2 separate regions of the Homo sapiens genome follow, and region 2 is linked to region 1. Evidence: fine-mapped expression QTL. A gene starts in region 1. The other region holds a variant in brackets. All regions are shown on one strand. Distances are from middle to middle.

Region 1 (5,474 bases):
CATGCATTTGGCTAGCACAGCCTAATCTAGACACGACCTCCTCCAGGAAGCCACACCTGACCACCTTAGTCCAAGCACCCTCTTAGGAGCTTTCTTGGTTCACTCTTGCCTGTATCGCATGGCACTGAGGTTGCTGTCTTCTTTTCTTGCTCCTTCGCCTGCAAAGCCAAAGGCCAAAGCAAGGACTGCGTCTTGCTGATGATTCGGTCCTCAGCAGCCAGCACCTTCGCCGGCACGGGGTAGGTACTCAGTAGGCATTTGTTAAGTGCATGCTTGGCTCTAAGAGCTGCATTCTGCTTTTTTGGAGGATGCAGCTTGGGTGTACTAAGTGGGAGGCTGCAAGTGATGACGGAAATGTGGTTTCCTGCAGACCTGGGCAAAGGCCCTGGGGTCATTGGGGGCTCAGGGTGCTGATGTTAAAAGACCATGGTGTCCTTCTTGTTGAACCAAACTCTCAGGCTACTGTTTCCTCACTCCTCGTCAGAGACAAATGTGTTCTGAGTGACTGGAGTCATAGCTCAGAGCACCAGGAGCTGGTTTAGGGTGGGGCGAGGGGCCGTGGCCTTGGGGCTCTCGTTTCTAAAGGCCCAGGGCTCAGGGCTGGGGGGAGGGGTGAGGAGTGGCAGGTCGTGTCCCCGGGAGGCTGCAGTCACTGGGGGAGAGACAATGGGGCTCAGCATCTGCTCCTCCCTGGGAGAAGGGACCCTTCAGTGAAAAGCCAGGGAGAGCAGGGAAGTGTGGGAGGAATTGATGAGGAGAAGGGGTGGAGCCAAGGAGATGCAGCCGGGAGGAAGGAAGGGAAGGGAAGGAAGGGAAGAGGGAGGGGAGAGGATCCAGGCTTTCCTTCCTCCCGGTGACCTGGTCCTGAGCCGCAGCTTCCCTTGCATTGTTCCCTGAGTTTGCTCTCGGGGCCCACCGAGACCTCACGTTTCTCCCCCTGGCTGCAGCCCCAGTCCGAGGGCCCGGCATCCAGCAGGTGCTCAATACTTACTTGGGAAAATGACAAATGTGACCAACTTTGCTTTGGGAACTTTCCCCCGTCTTCTCCCCACTCCTCCGGAGAACCCGAGGACAGAGCAGGTCTTGGGAGCACGCCCGGGCGCCCCATGAATAATTGACCCTTCCTGGCGGCACTGCCCGGCTCTGTCCGAGGGCTCCGGACCCGCCCTGCGTTGCAGTCGAGAAACGGCTCGGAGTGGCGGGTGTTCTGGAGGTTGGAGGCCTGGTGTCCGGCCTGCGCCGGAGCTGGAGGGCGGCGAGGCTGTGCCAAACCCCGCGGCCCCTCAGGGAGCCGAGAGGGACCTGACGGCCGCGCTGCCAGCGACCACGCCTCGGCGCCCCCCAGCAGTGCGCCCCGGGGCCGAGGCCCAGGCCCTGGGCTCGGGGACCCCGCCAGCCCGCCGATCCCAGCAGCTGCCCTGAGCCCCTTCTCCACCCGGGCCCTGGCGCTCGGAGCCCGCGCCGCTCCCTCGAGTCAGGCCGTCCAGGGCTCTGCTAACAGCTGTTTAAAGGCTTTTGCTGTTCAGTGCTCTGCGGGGATGTTTGTTCCAGGCCCATCTGCCTACTTTAAAAATACATAAGTGAAGCACACACACCCAGCTTGCCACCTCTGGCTGGGGAGGGGCGGGCTCGGCGGCCCTCGCTCGCACTTGGGAAGGAACCGGCACCCAGGAGCCGCACCCGTGCCCCAACACCCGCACCGGCTCTCCTCTCCAGAGGACGCCCCTGGCTTCCCTTGGGGGGGGCGGGGCGCAGGGCCCCCGGGCCCCCTTTGTACCGGACAGGGCCGGGCCCCCCATTTCCAAGCGAGGTCTGCCTCTTCCCCGCTTCAGTTAATCTTTGTTCCCCTTTTCTGCTGAGAGGAGAAAAAAAAAAGAGAGAGAGAGAAAGAAAGAAAAGAAGGAAAAAAGGCGTGACTTGATTTTCAAACGAAACTCCCACAGCAAACAAAACCCTTTTAGAGAAATAAGAAAGGAGGAAGAAGGAAGAAAAGAGGGAAGAAAAAAACAGGAGAAAGAAAACCCTTCAGGCTTTCAATTCGAGTGGGAGAGTTGAACCGAAAGAAAGAGAAAGAAAGGAAGAAAAATCCTCTGCGGTAGAAAGAGAAAAGAAAACTTGGGCTGACAAGAGGGAGGTGTTGGGGGTGGAAGGAAGTGAGAAAACAAAAGAGAGATAAAAGGGCTGCTTTTCTGTCTCTCTCTTCCTCTGCGAGCTGGCTTAGGAGGAGCTGTTTTGCATCCCTTCACGTCAGCCCTGCCTCATTCCCTTCTTCCAGGGAGGGAGAGAGCGCGAGCGAGAGAGCGAGCGAGAGGAGGGGGGAGAGAGAGAAAGAGAGGAGCCGGAGGGAGGGCGGCAGGAGCAGGCGGCGGGCGCGCGTGGAGGCGGGCGGCGGGCGCACAGCAGCAGCCCGGGCGGTGGGCAGCCAGGAGCCCCCGGCCCGGCCCGGCCCGGCCCGCCGAGGGCCCCAGCGCAGGAGCCGCGCCCGGACCCAGGGTGAGTGTCCCGCGCGGCCCCCCGCCCCAGCCCCAGCCCCAGCCCCGCAGCCCCGCGCTGCCGGCCGGCGGGGGCGCGGGGGGCGCGGGGGTGGGTCGCTGCGGCCGCGGCCGACCCGCCCCCCGCCTCTCCCTGGGGACGGCCGCGCGCAGGCCCGCGCCGCGCTGCAAACATGTCGTCTTTTCCTTTCACTTCCACATTCCCTCATGCCGGAGAGCTGGAGGGAGAGAGGGAGAGCCGGGGAAAGAGGGAGAGATGGCGTCTGGGGTGGGGGGGAGGGAGAGGAGGGGGAGGGGGAAGGGAGAGGGAGGGAGCGAGCGAAAGAGGGCGAGAGGGAGGAGAGCGCGCGAATGAGAGAGAGAGAGAGAGAGAGAGAGAGAGAGGCAAAAATGAAAGGAAAGCGTCGCGGCGGCGGCGGCGGCGGCGCGGGAGGCCCGGGAGGCGACGGTGGCGGAGGCTCTCGGGCCCGCACGTGGGTGTCCCGGTGCTGGGTGCGCTCCCCCCACACCCGGCCCGGGACTCAAAGTTTCACCCCCTCGCCGCCCCGCCCCTACGGCTGCCCACAAACTTTATTCTCGGAGCGGGTGGGGTTGTTGCGCGTCCCAGCCGGCCGGGGGTGGGGGAGAGCTGAGCGCGCCGCTGGCGGGGCTGGGGGCGTCCCCGAGGGCCACTGGCCGCCGCACGCTGGGCGCCGCGGGATCTCCGCCGGGACAGCGTCGGGGCGCCGCGGGCCGGGGACCCAGGACCGGCGCTCGCTGTCTGGGGGCGTGGGGGTGGGGGTGGCGGGCGGGGTCCCTACGGCCCGTCTTGAGCCTCCCGCGGCTCAGCCCCCCTTCCTCCTCGTCGCCCTCTCTCCGTCTTCTCGCGGTCATTTTCCTAATTGGATGGAGCTGTGGGGCGTGAGCACCAGCGTCAGATCGGGGCCCTCAGGCTACCAGGTGGGCGCGCGGGCTCGGGGACCGACGGGGCAGCCCCAGCCTCCCCACCCTAGGCGCACAGATCCCGCAGATCCGGCCCTTGGGCCACCGCCCCCTTCACCGCGGACTTGCTAACTAGTGCGTATCGGGTTTTTTTCCAACTTGCCTTTTAAGATGACTTTTATGGGCGCTGCAACTGCTTCCCTCCAGTCTAAGCTGTAGTTTGGAAAGATTTAAGAGGCCAGGGAGGTGCTTGTGTGGATTTTAACCAACCTGAAAGGGTCATTCATGTATCTCTAGGATTTGCGAGACGGTTAGGGCAAGGCGTAGCAGTATCCGGGGTGCCTTTTCTTTTTTCTTGATATGGAGTCTTGCTCTGTCGCCCAGGCTGGAGTGCAGTGGCGCGATCTCGGCTCACTGCAGCCTCCGTCTCCCGGGTTCAAGCGATTCTCCTGCCTCAACCTCCCCAATAGCTGGGACTACAGGCGCACGCCACCACGCCCGTTTAATTTTTAATTATTTTTAGGAGAGACGGGGTTTCACCATATTGGCCAGGCTGGTCTCAAACTCCTGACCTCGTGATCCGCCCGCCCCGGCCTCCCAAAGTGCTGGGATCACAAGGACTCTTCGAGGTACTCGTCCTACTGGGTCTGAGGGAGGCCTGCCGGGCAATCCAGTGAGGGACCAACGTCATGGCCCACCCTTGAGCTGCAGGCCGAGTGCCCACCTGCAAAGGGCACCCTGAGCACCTTTCTTGCTGTGCAAAATGGAAACTCCCGGCCGGTATCGACCTGCAGTGTACATAACTAGTCCCTGTGGGCATCTGGGAAATTCACAAAACTCCCCCACAGGTGTGCGGAGAAGGACTTTGTGCTCTTGGGGGTCACTCAGCCAGCTTTGAAGCTGCCCTCTCAGTCCTGCATTTGTACACGTGTAAGTAAAACCAGTCAAAGTTCATTTCTGCCAAGTAGAGGGCTGGGGGTCTGTGTCCCTATTGCATCTTCACCAGGGGGCCTAGAGAACCAATGGGGCCACGTGGGAGAAGGGAAGAAGAAAACCGTTCTTAACTCGTTAGATAAGAGACAGTGTATTCCTAATGTGATCAAAGCCGATGGGGCTATCTGGTTTTGACTTCTGAAAACCTAGAGTGGCCATTCCTTTCTCATTTGTTTTAAAGAGAATGTTATTTTCTATACTTTCTCATTGGTTTTATTAGCTGACCCTCAGGCCAGGGTAACTGTGCTGGGTACCTGCCAGTCTCGGAGCAGAACCTCTGATCGGTCATCTGTAGCTCCAGAGAGGTGCCCACCTGGTGCCCCAGTGACCTTCTGGAGCTGGCTTTCCTGCATGAGGGCCGTGGGGATAGAGCTGCTTTCTTTTGGGTAGGGGGAATTGGATGTTTGGGTCACATTTTCTTCCTCCAGCCTGGCCTGGTTGCCTGTGTCTTGGTGGAGGGGGCTGCAGTGAGTTGAAGTGGGACGCGGGCTCACTTGCTTGTCTTCTCAGAGCTGATACCTGGGTGAGTCCTCAGCCCACGGTGTGTGGTCAGCGGGCCATTTTTCCAGGGCTTGGGTCATTTCCATTCCAACCAGGCATTTCCTACCAGGGAGACTTATTTTAGGCTCACTGTCTAGAGACAAGGAGACAGACAAGGTCTGGAATGGTTTTTGAGTTGGAGGAAGGGAGACTAATGGGACCACCAGAGATTTTGCACTTCTATTTTAGGTTTGCCTTGTGGCCCAGAGATATTTCTAGCAGAGTTGTGTTTGGAAAGAAGCACAACTTCTTTCTAGAAGGGAGTAAATAAATAAATAAAGGAGGAGTCCAGCGCATCTTGGAGGAGACAAGTGAAGTCAGCTCCCTGGCCCCACCAGTGCTGATGCTTGGCGCAGGCTCATAATCTGGCTTGCTGACCCCTCCCATACCCTCGTTCCTCAGGCCTAGCCAGGGCCTAGCCCGCGGCAGGACTCATTATGTTGAAATAAGGAATCTGTGAATGTGCTGGGCCTGCTGTTAATGGTGCTTGCTCCCAGCCCTTTGACTTCAAAGCTGGAAGAAGGCCTT
Region 2 (5,234 bases), 74 kb after region 1:
AGTGACCCCCAATGGATGGCTTGTGTCCCTGTCTCTCGGGTGTCTGGGGTCACATGGAAAAGCATAAAGAGAGAACTGTCCATAAAGAACAGGATTCTGGGCCAGGCATGGTGGTGCATGCCTGTAATCCCAGCATTTTGGGAGGCTGAGGTGGGTGGATCATTTGAGGTAAGGAGTTCGAGACCAGCCTAGCCAATGTGGTGAAACCCCTTCTCTACTAAACATACAAAAAATTAGCTGGGCGTGGTGGCACGTGCCTGTAGTCCCAGCTACTCGGGAGACTAAGGCAGGAGAATCTCTTGAACCCAGGAGGCAGAAGTTGCAGTGAGCCGAGATCATGCCACTGCACTCCAGCCTGGACAACAGAGTGAGAGTCTGTCTCAAAAAAAAAACAAAAAAAAAAAACAAAAGAATAGGATTCTGGCCCAGCCATAGAGGTGGGAGTGGGCTGGGGTCCGGGGAAAGCAGGTTCCCCACAGGCTCAGGACACCGGGTTGATGTGTTCTAGGTGTGCGGGAAGTCCTTCAACCGCATGTACAACCTGCTGGGCCACATGCACCTGCACGCCGGCAGCAAGCCCTTCAAGTGCCCCTACTGCTCCAGCAAGTTTAATCTCAAGGGCAACCTGAGCCGGCACATGAAGGTCAAGCATGGCGTCATGGACATCGGCCTGGACAGCCAAGGTGGGTGGGCCAAGCGCAATGGACAGAGCAGGAATGATACCAACATGACGCACTCAGGAGCCTCCTGCCCAGTTAGAGGAGTGGGGAGGCTGGCCAAGGCTGAGACTTCGTTGGGGTGGGCTCAGGTCTGGAAGGGGGGTACCCTGGAAGGCCATGATGACAATAACGATGGGATATTTATGTCTTCTTCAAAGGACTTAAATGAGATCACGTAAACAATATAATAAAAATCATAACTAACATTTATTGAGTGCTAACTGTGTGCCAGGCCTTTATTAACTCATGTGATCCTCAAAGCGAGGTTGGCTCTGTCATTGTCATCGTTTTACAGATGCAGAAACTGAAGAACAGAGAACTTAGATAGCTCATGCAAGATGACAACACAGCAGGAGGTGACAGACACTTTATTTCGTTACCGTGAGATAATATTTCAAATAAGTGTATGGGAAAGAAAGTTAGAAAGGGGAAAAAATGGCAGCCGGAAAGATAAGGGAGAGCCAGGTGAGGTCCCAACTCCAAGTACACCATGGGAGGTCCTAAGCAAGGGACATGCAGAGGGGAGATCTGAGCTTCCCAGCAACCAAGGCAAAAAAGTGTCAATCAGTCACACTCTTCACAAGTGCCTGCCAGAGACTATAACCCACATACTCATGAAAGGGCCAGACAGCCCTGACGTTAAGATCTGGGAGAAATTTTAGGAGAGGATCCTATGCCTCAGCAGTTCGTAGAAGTTTCAGAGGCTGTCAGAAAACATCCCAAGTGTTAGCGGTAGCCTTTCCCTCCAGCAGTGGTCAGTACTTAAAGCATTTCTGTTGGGTGACAGCAAAGCTGTTAGCCTCTCTGGCCTCATGGTGGGGAGGGACTGCTGTGGAGACTCCACAGGAAGGAGGGAGCCAACAGCGCTACAGGGAGGCTCCTTCTACAGTTGGGAGCTATTTCTGGTGCTCTGGCTGGGCATGATGGCTCACACCTATAATCCTGGCACTTTGGGAGGCCGAGGCAGGAGGATCCCTTAAGGCCAGGAGTTTGATACCAAACCAGGCAACATAGTGAGACCTGGTCTCTACAAAAATATTTTTAAATTAGCTGGGTGTGGTGGCGTGTGCCTATAATCTCAGCTACTTGGGAGTCTAAGGCAGGAAGATCACTTGAGCCCAGGAGTTCAAGGCTGTAGTGAACTGTGATCGGACCACGGCACTCCAGCCTGCGTGGCAAAGCAAGACCCTATCGCCAAATTATAATAAAGAAATTCTGGTGTGCCTCTGAGTCACACCAGCTGGGAACATGCTTTGGCAGTAACCAGGTGAGCTGACTTGCCACGTGGGATTATTTACTGGAATGCAGGCAGGCACGCGGGAACAGCTGCAGTAGCTTAACTCTGGTTTTGGAACAGCTGACCAGTGAATGGCCTGGGTTTTCTGGCAGAAACAGGTATCTCAGTTGTTTTGTTTTGTTTTTCAGTTGTCTATTAAGGTTGCTTCCAGTAGACGAGAATGAAACCCCGTCGGCTGCTCTTGGTAGCTCCTTGCTACTCAAAATGTGGTAGGAGGATGAGCA[G/T]CCTCGGCCCCACCTGGGATCTTGCTGGCCTCTCAGCTCCACCCACACCTGCTGAGTCAGACTCTACACTTCAAAAAGATCTCTGGGCCATTTGTTGCAGTCAAGTTTGAGACCCACTGGACCAGACTAGTGCCTCAGAGTCTCCTGGAGGGCTTGTTGAAACAAAGTGCTGGCCCCACCCCCAGAGTTTCTGATTCAGTAGATCTGGGGTGGGGTCTGAGACGCTGCCTTTCCCACAAGTTCCCAGTTCTTAGCAAAGCAGCCGCTGGTTCAGGGACCTCATGTTGAGAACCTTTGATCCAGACTGCAGAGGGCTGGCTGGCAAATCAGCTGCATGTTGGGAGTCACCTGAGGAATGTTTTAAATGCTGATGCCTGAGTTTGGACCTGAGGTTCAAATGTAAGTGATCTGGAATGTGGCCTGGGATCAGGATTTTTGTAAAGCACTTTGGGTGAGTCCATGTGCAGTAGATTTTGAGAGCTGTATTCTAGTGGATCTGCCCTGTTGCTAACCCACCAGAAGGAACCAGAGCAGAACGTGCCCTTTTGGAAATAACTGGGACCATGAAGAGACTGTCAGTGTTACAGCTCTTTTAGAATTTGTTAGGCTGGGCGTACTGGCTCACGCCTATAATCCCAACACTTTGGGAGGCAAATCCCAAGGTGGGCAGATCACCTGAGGTTGGGAGTTCGAGACCAGCCTGGCTAACATGATGAAACCCCGTCTCTACTAAAAATACAAAAATTAGCTGGGCGTGTTGGCACATGCGTGTAATCCCAGCTACTCGGGAGGCTGAGGCAGGAGAATCACTTGAACCTGGGAGGCAGAGGTTGCAGTGAGCCGAGATTGTGTCACTGCACTCCAGCCTGGGTGACAGAGTGAGACTTTGACTCAAAAAAAAAAAAAAAAAAGCATTCATTTAGCAGGTTTTCCAGTTTTTACCAGAAATCGCCCCACCCCCATCCCACCACCCAAACAAGATTTTTTAAAAAGACTGTCCCTGTACACCTTGTTCCTCGGGGTGGTTAAGGCACAACCTCTTTCTATATGAGCTCAGTCACCAGGGATGCTTAGAATTCCTCTATTCCTGGCCGTACCAGATGACAGAAGGAAGCGATTGGCCCTGGAATGACTGGGCTCCAGGTCCCCACCTCCCTCATACAGCCTTGGTCTGGGAAGCCCAGGCTTGATGCGTATGCAGAAGGAAGGCAGCATACATTCTAGACAGAACGATCTAGTAACTATGGGGCTGTCATTTGGGGAGGTGGATCAATGTCCTTATAAAAAATGCTACAGACTATTCTCTGGGGCCCACAGGACGGGACCATAGACTTAATAAACAAAATGGGGACGGTGTACAGAGATCCACAAGTAGAAATTTTCTCAAGGTGCTTTTTTTTTTTTTTTTTTTTTTGAGACGGAGTCTTGCTCTTTCACCCAGGCTGGAGTGCAGTGGCGCGATCTCGGCTCACTGCAAGCTCCACCTCCTGGGTTCACGCCATTCTCCTGCCTCAGCCTCCCAAGTAGCTGGGACTACAGGCGCCTGCCACCACGCCCGGCTAATTTTTTTGTATTTTTAGTAGAGACGGGGTTTCACGGTGTTAGCCAGGATGGTCTTGATCTCCTGACCTCATGATCTGCCTGCCTTGGCCTCCCAAAGTGCTGGGATTACAGGCATGAGCCACTGCGCCTGGCCCCCAAGGTGCTTTATTTAGCTTGTTTTTGAAACCAGCTGTGTAACATGAGGGTGTGGCACTAGGACTGAGGGAAGAAACAGCCCAAATCTATAAGATATGGGTCAAGTGACCTTGTTTTATAAAGTCCGGAAGACTCACAGTGGGTTAGATGCTACAGGCACAAGTAACAGATACCCATTCAGACTGGCCTAAACAATAAGGAAATCCATTAAGAAATGGCTCAAGACCAGGTGTGGTAGCGCACACCTATCGTCCCAGCTACTCGGGAGGTTGAGTTGGGAGGATCACTTTGAGTTTGAGGCTGCAGTGAGCCATGATTGCACCACTGCACCCCAGCCTTGGCAATAGAGCAAGACCTTGTCAAAAAAAGAAAAGAAATGGGGCCAGGCGCAGTGGCTCACGCCTGTAATCCCAGCACTTTGAGAGGCCGAGGCAGGCGGATCACCTGAGATTGGGAGTTCAAGACCAGCCTGACCAACATGGAGAAACCCCGTCTCTACTAAAAATACAAAAAAAATTAGCCGGGTATGGTGGCGCATGCCTGTAATCTCAGCTACTTGGGAGGCTGAGGCAGGAGAATCGCTTGACCCCAGGAGGTGGAGGTTGTGATGAGCCAAGATTGCACCATTGCACTCCAGCCTGGGCAACAAGAGCGAAACTCGGTCTCAAAAAAAAAAAAAAAAAGAAGAGAAAAGAAATGGTTCAAAGTCTAGGCCCTCTTCAGAGCTGGCTGATTCAGCTTGCCAACAGTGACATCAGGGTGAGGCTTCCTCTGTCCACAGCATTAGCTGCGAATATCCTCATGGTCACAAGATGGCTGCCAGTGGCCGTCAGGGTGTGTGCTTCCTTGTTCACATCCAGTGGAAGAGTGACAGCCTGCTCCCCTTAGCTCTCTGACACCAATGAGAAGGTGCTAAGAACTTACTAGCAGGCCTTTCCTCATGACCCATTCAACAGGATTGGGTCACGTGCCTATTCCTGAACCACTAATTGGGAAGGGATGGGATTACTCTTAGACCAGTGGTTCTCAACTGAGCATGAGTTTGTCTTCCAGGTGACAGTTGGCCATGTTTGGAGACATTTATGGTTGTCACAACTGGGGTGATGCTACTGGCATCTCATGGGTAGAGGCCAGGGATGCTGTCAAACATCCTACAATGCACAGGACAGCCTCACAACAAAGAATTATGGCCCTAAGTGCCAAGGTTGAGAAAGTCTGCCTTAGACCTGTCAGGGCTGCCCCCAGCCTGGGGTCTGTTTCCCCCAAAACACGCACATCTCAGCGGACAGGGCCAGA

What was found.
Region 2: its variant is fine-mapped to the expression of ZNF710 in whole blood (TOPMed, PIP above 0.99).

What each region holds. Positions count from the first base shown.
Region 1 is chr15:89,999,122-90,004,595 of GRCh38, forward strand. It overlaps ZNF710 (zinc finger protein 710), which reads left to right and starts at 2,203. Exons shown (of 5, transcript NM_198526.4): 1 at 2,203-2,493. RefSeq lists silencers at 1,655-1,824, 2,233-2,401, 2,817-3,316 and enhancers at 3,016-3,784, 3,785-4,552.
Region 2 is chr15:90,073,608-90,078,841 of GRCh38, forward strand. ZNF710 (zinc finger protein 710) reads left to right here. Exons shown (of 5, transcript NM_198526.4): 4 at 509-683. It overlaps ZNF710-AS1 (ZNF710 antisense RNA 1), which reads right to left. Exons shown (of 2, transcript NR_146321.1): 2 at 905-1,306. Among named protein-coding and RNA genes, the nearest start is that of ZNF710-AS1, 6.0 kb to the right of the region's middle. The variant G/T (reference allele first, on the strand shown) is at 2,241.